Linked DNA regions of Homo sapiens. The protein of the gene in region 1 purifies or fractionates together with the protein of each later gene. This does not show direct contact. Each region holds a gene or a part of one and is shown in the gene's direction. Other genes may lie near its edges.

What was found.
Region 2: the proteins of PRM3 (region 1) and SSU72 purify together in Homo sapiens (affinity purification with mass spectrometry; one large-scale study listed by BioGRID and IntAct). This does not show direct contact.

Annotation. Positions count from the first base shown.
Region 1 is NC_000016.10:11,272,599-11,275,234, reverse strand, and holds PRM3 (protamine-3), read left to right. Parts: upstream 1-1,605; 5' UTR 1,606-1,639; coding exon 1,640-1,951; 3' UTR 1,952-2,036; downstream 2,037-2,636. UniProt on the Homo sapiens protein: Protamines substitute for histones in the chromatin of sperm during the haploid phase of spermatogenesis. They compact sperm DNA into a highly condensed, stable and inactive complex.
Region 2 is NC_000001.11:1,547,221-1,551,034, reverse strand, and holds part of SSU72 (RNA polymerase II subunit A C-terminal domain phosphatase SSU72), read left to right. Parts: intron 1-3,814. UniProt on the Homo sapiens protein: Protein phosphatase that catalyzes the dephosphorylation of the C-terminal domain of RNA polymerase II. Plays a role in RNA processing and termination. Plays a role in pre-mRNA polyadenylation via its interaction with SYMPK.

The DNA of each region.
Region 1 (2,636 bases):
AGTGTAAACGGTGGGGGCAGAGGTGGGGGCACTGCTCAGTGCAGGCCACAGCTTCGAGGTGGGAAACAGGTCTGGCATGCTCCAGCAACAACTTGGTCAGCACAGAGACGGCAAAAGGCAAGGAGTAGATGAATGCAGAGTAATGGGCTGCGCTGTGTGAGGCCTGTGCTGGCTGAAGCCTCTGGAGACCCAGGCAGAATCCGATCCTTGTTGCCTGCTCTCCTCGGCCTGTGGCTGCATCACTCCTCCCTCCTGTCTGAAATCAAGGACCCTTGTGATTGCACTGAGGGACTTTCTGGACAACCCAAGATAACCTCCCCATCTCACAATCCTTACATCATAGATTCCAGGATCAGGAAGGGGGCACTTCGGAGAGTGCCAACCTTAGCCAACCATAGCCACTGAGGACTGGGGGGATAAGACTGGCAAGATCCAATCCATATGTTGGCAAATGGATTTCTGGTGCTCAGAAATGACCAATCTTTAGGAAGCAACGAGTTTCTGAAAACAAAACAACAACAACAAAAAAAAAAACAGACGGAGTTTCGCTCTTGTCACTGGGGCGGTGTGCAGTGGTGCGATCTTGGCTCACTGCAACCTGCACCTCCTATGTTCAACTGATTCTCCTCCCTAACCTCCTGAGTAGCTGAAGGAGCTAAACAAATTTTTTTTTTTTTTTTTTTTTGGTATTTTTAGTAAAGACATGGTTTCACGATGTTGGCCAGGCTGGTCTCGAACTTCTGACCTCAGATGATCTGCCTGCCTCGCCTCCCAAAGTGCTGGGATTACAGGTGTGAGCCACCACGCCTGGCCTCAAAAAATTTATATTTAAAAAATACCATTGCAGTGTACAAACGACTCATTTCAATGTATAAAAGACAAAGTCCTAAACCCCCTCCCCCCATGCTGAAATTGTGCTGCACAGATGTGGAACCTTGCCAAGGGGCAGCTCCATGATGTCTTCTCTGTGGCCCCAAAACACTTAAGAGGATGTCACTCCACCCTGACCTGGGTAGAGTGGCCTCTGGTTGGTGGTGTCCATCTTGCATCAGTCAGGGACAAAGCAACCCCTTGTTCATCCCAGCTTGGTTTCTGGCCTGTTCCCATGCCTTGGACAAACAAACAATGCTTAGGAGCCATTGCCTTTCAAGAAGATTTCACACTTTCAGGCCCCCGAAGGAAGACTTCCAAGGGTTCCTGAGTTTTATGAGCTTACAGAGTGCATACATTTTAAGCACACAGCTTGATGATTTATTTCCAAGGGTTAACAGTCAAGAAACTCAACAGAGACAGCTCTCTCTGGCTGGCGATTTCTGGGATGTGGGGAGGAGTCTGTGTGTGCCCCTCCTGCTTCTAGAAATTCAATCCCTAACTCCCATCCCAGCTACAAGGGAAACTTTCTCCAGGGCAAATGAGGACTATGGTGTGGCATCCGAACTGGCCCCAGTGCTCAGCCTTGCAGACCTCCCCTGTGGGGGCTGGGAGCTGCCAGTGGCTGAGGTGTGAGTTAACTGTTGGCTCAGACCCAGGTTCCCAAGTGGGGATGGGCTCCCTTTGTGATGTCAGCATCCTGCCCCCACTCGCAGCCCCTTCACCCACCGCCTCACCTCCTTGCCCAGAGAGACAGGCAACGTAGACCATGGGTTCCCGCTGTGCCAAGCTCAACACAGGCCAGAGCCCAGGCCACAGCCCAGGCCACAGCACGGGCCATGGCCGGGGCCACGAATCCTCCATGAAAAAGCTCATGGCCTGTGTGAGTCAGGATAACTTCTCCTTGTCATCAGCGGGCGAGGAAGAGGAGGAAGAGGAGGAGGAGGGGGAAGAGGAGGAGAAAGAAGAGCTGCCGGTGCAGGGCAAGCTGCTGCTGCTGGAGCCTGAGCGGCAGGAGGAGGGCCACAAGGACAACGCCGAGGCCCAGCAGAGCCCCGAGCCCAAGCGGACACCCTCCTGACCCGCAACGAAGGCCCAGGAAGGGACGCCCACTGCTGCTCCGGCGACAGTGTTCAGAGAAGAGTCAATAAAAAGTCTCTGAGGAATCCTCCCTGTCTCTGGTTCCCCTCACCCTATCCCTTCTGGCCCCACGTGTGCACGTGTGTGAAGGCGTGTGTGTGTGGGTGCACACGGAGGGAGGCCAGCTGCCAAGGAAGGCTGAACAGCAAGGCTCGGTGACCTTGTTCCCAAGCCCCAGCCAGAGGTTGAGGGGCTTTGAGAGGGGGAAATCATCTCCGCCAAATCTTCCCATCTCTGGGACGGGAAATTCCTCTGCGAGTCCCAGCACACCCCAGCCGAGAGCATCCAGCGGGACAGGGTAACTGCCTTCATCGCAGTCCCCACTGTGCTGCCCCAACTATGGACCGTCTTTTAAGAACACTGGCTTGGGAGTTCAGCAGACCTGGGTTCAAACTTCTTTTCTGGTAGCTGCGTGCCCTTGAGCAAGTCACTGCGTGTCTTTGAGCCTCAGGCTGCCCCTCCCAGCGTTTAGGGGAAGCTAATAGCTACTCATGGGTCAGATGATCAGAAAAATTAGCTCAAGTGATGGGTGGGACCAGGCCTGGCACCAGTCAGTGCTGAGCTAGGACAGGGATTGTTGCTGGGGTCATGGTGGTTCCTCTAGGTCCTTCTTGGCTGCAGACTCT
Region 2 (3,814 bases), on another chromosome or scaffold:
AGGTTGTTGAAGGCCCGGGCAGCCTGGGGGCGCTGGCAGGACAGGAGCTTTCTGGGGGGTGGATGTGTCCACAGCAGAAACCTGGGCCCAACTCAGTCCAGCTTAAGAGGAGGTCCTAGACCACGAGATGCCCCAGGGTCTGTGCACCTCCCAGGCCCAGCAGGGAGGGAGGGGCGTGTGGTGGGTGATGGTTCAGTGGAGTGAGTGGTGGGTGCAGCCTTCCTGCTGATGAACCACCAGGCCTTCCGGCCGGCACCAGTCCATGGTCCCTGGCTCCGGCAGGCTTGTCCTCCCTGGTGTGGTGCTTTGCTAAACCTCCGCCCTCCCTCCATCTTCCTCCCACAACAGAACAGTGTTGAGGCTCTGCCAGGCGAGATCACTGCCTCGTCCTGACTCCCTGGGCCCGGGACCATCCCTGGCAGGCACTTGAGGGGGGCCAGCAGCCTGGGGCCCGGGGCTCAAGGCCCCGTGGGGTCTGGCGAGAGGCAAGGGCCCAGGCACTGATTCTCTGAGTGCTGGCAAAGGGCCTGTGGTGTCCGCTGGTGTCTGGGAATTGCTGGAGGGTCAAAAGCATTAGGCTTAGCCAGGAAAGTCATGGTTAGGGTTAAACTCATGTCTGCTGAAAATTGCCTGAATTAAAATTGAACAAATGTGCCTTAACTCGAAAGAAAAGAGCAGACATTCAGAATAACACGTTGCCAAGAACCCTGAAGGGTGGCCCCTCTGAGGCACCAGCTACCCCCAGCCGGGCTGGCGTGGAGGATGGCGGGGGTTGTCTGCTGGTTGGGTGGCATGTGGACTTGTCTTGGATGCCATGATTTATATACATATATATATATATACTTTTTTTTTTTTTTTTTTGAGACACTCTCGCTCTGTCTCAGGCTGGAGTGTAGTGATGTGATCTCGGCTCATGGCAATCTCCCCTCCCAGGTTCAAGTGATTCTTGTGCCTCTGCCTCCGGAGGAGGCTGGAATCACAGGTGTGCACCACCATGCCTGGCTAATTTTTGTATTTTTAGTAGAGAAGACGGGGTTTTGCCATCTTTTTTTTTTTTTTTTGAGACAGAGTCTCGCTCTTGTCACCCAGGCTGGAGTATAGAGGCGCAATCTCGGCTCACTGCAACCTCCACCTCCTGGGTTCAAGCTATTCTCCTGCCCCAGCCTCCTGAGCAGTGGGATTACAGGCACCCGCCACCATGCCCGGCTAATTTTTTATATTTTTAGTAAAGATGGGGTTTCACCATGTTAGCCAGGATGGTCTCGATCTCCTGACCTTGTGATCCACCCGCCTCGGCCTCCCAAAGTGCTGGGATTACAGGCGTGAGCCACTGCGCCCAGCCATAATTTTTGTACTTTAGTAGAGTCAGGGTTTTGCCATATTGGTCAGGCTGGTCTCGAACTCCTGACCTCAGATAAGCCATCCGCCTCGGCCTCCCAAAGTGGTGGGATTATAGGTGTGAGCCACCATGCCTGGCTGCAGCCTTTTTTTTTCTTTTTCTTTCTTTTTTTTTTTTGAGACAGAGTCTCGCTCTGTCCCCCAGGCTGGAGTGCGGTGGTGCGATCTTGCTCACTGCAAGCTCCGCCTCCGGGTTCACGCCATTCTCCCGCCTCAGCCTCCTGAGTAGCCGGGACTACAGGCGCCTGCCACCACGCCTGGCTAATTTTTTGTGTTTTTAGTAGAGACAGGGTTTCCCTGTGGTAGCCAGGATGGTCTCGATTTCCTGATCTTGTGATCCACCTGCCTCGGCCTCGCAAAGTTCTGGGATTACAGGCGTGAGCCACCGTGCCCGGCCCCAGGCTGGTAATTTTTTATTTTTTGTAGAGGCAGGGTTTCTTTGTTGCTCTGTGTGGACAGAAAGCTTAGTTTGTTTCTCTGATGGTTAGTCCCCCACAGAATTTTAACGTGATTCTGTGTTGATGACACTTTCTGTTGCATGAGACAATATTCCAGATCTCTCTGGGTCCCTCCTGGATTCAAGGCATCCTCCTGCCTCGGCCTCCCGAGTAGCTGGGACCACAGGTATGTGTCACAGCCCAAGGCCTCCAGCACAAGCCTTATTCTCCCATCCCCAGACTCAGGAGGCCATGCAGCCACACACCGGGGGAGGGTTCCAGACGTCACTGTGGGACGGGAGTGACACCAACAGGGCAGGGAGGGCCAGGACATTGGCTCATGCTGGCCGGTGGCCTCTCGGGATTGGCCACACGTGCTCAACCCATGGGAATCTCACTCAAGGGTCTGATGGGCCTGCTCCTCCTGTTTACGCCAAAGTCCAGAAGGCCTCCGGGGGCGAGTGGGAGGACGCAGAGTGGGTGAGCGGAGCTACCTTCCTCACCGCGGTCCATGTGGAAGCCAGGGCAGGGGAGGGGCCTGCCCACTGCACCCACCCCCAGCACCCCACCCCGTGGCTGCCACATCTCACCTCTGGACAATTTTCTTGGCCCATCCTTGGGAGTTTTTTTTTTTTTTTTTTTTTTGAGACAGAGTCTTGCTCCTGTCACCGAGGCCAGAGTGCAGTGGCATGATCTCAGCTCAGTGCAGCCTCCGCCTCCTGGCTTCAAGCAATTCTCCTGCCTCAGCCTCCAGAGTAGCTGGGACTAAGGCGCCTGCCACGACGCCTGGCTAATTTTTGTAATTTGGTATAGATGAGTTTCACCATATTGGCCAGGCTGGTCTCAAACTCCTGACCTTGTGATCCGCCTGTCTCAGCCTCCCAAAGTGCTGGGATTACAGGTGTGAGCCACCGCGCCCAGCTGGGAGTTTATTTCTTAGATGTGTGTTAACTTCAGCTGAGGCTCCTGTGTGCCTCTGTTTCATGGCCTTCGGGTGTTGGCCGCCCTCTACTGAACGTGGTCCCTGAGGCCGCAGGGACTGTGCAAAGCCGGATGTCCAGGCCCTGGGAGTCCAATGGGGGCAGTCGATTCTATGGATGGCACATCCTCTTTGCCTGCCCTGCCCTGGGCCCTCTCTTGGCCCACTTTTCTGGGTACGTTTCAGGCCCTCATGCCCAGTTGGGGCCCTAGCATGGGTCAGGCCCTCCGCCTGGTGTCGCCTTCTTGCCCGGGCTGAGTCTTTGGTTTCTTTCTTTGTGGGTTCAATGTCGAACGCTTTGCGTCAGTGGGACTTCTGCAGGACCTGGGCGGCGCAGGTGTCCGGAAGATGGGACAGGTTTCTGTTCCGATGGCGCCTCTCTCCCCTTCCTCCCGCCCGGCAGTACTTAGGTTCTTCCTTCAGAAAGGATTTCCCCATGACTTGAAGAGCAGGCTCTCGCACGCAGGCCCGAAACCTGCTCAGCCTCCCCGTGGCCCTGAGCCTGTCTATTGAAGGCCCCGCCTCACCCGCCAGCGGCTCCTGTCCTCTCGCCTTGCTCTGAGCCTTTGCCTCGTGGCACTCACTGGCACCGTGGTTTTGCTGCCGGAATTCAGGTGGGATCTTGCGTCCCTGTGAGCTCATGGCTTGGTCTGTGGTCCCTTTGGTCCTCCTCAGGTCCTCACAGCCTCTGGTGGGGCTTGCAGGTCTAGCCCTCTGGGCGGGGCCTCACCTCGCATCTCCTCGCCAGGAGATCCAGAAGGGTGGCTGCTCGCTCATCCTTGTGTAGCTGAGGAGGCTGCTGCTTTGTCCCTGAAGTAGACATTTCTCCTTAACTGAATGATTCTTAATTTATTGCCTCATCTACATAAATAGTTGAGAATGACGTAAAGGAGGAAAGGACTTAGAACTGTCCAGGCCTCAGGGAAGAGCTGGCCTTGAACGTCCATGAGCTCTGCCAGCCAGTGACACCAGTCCCATCCCCAGGAGCCCCCACGGCCTC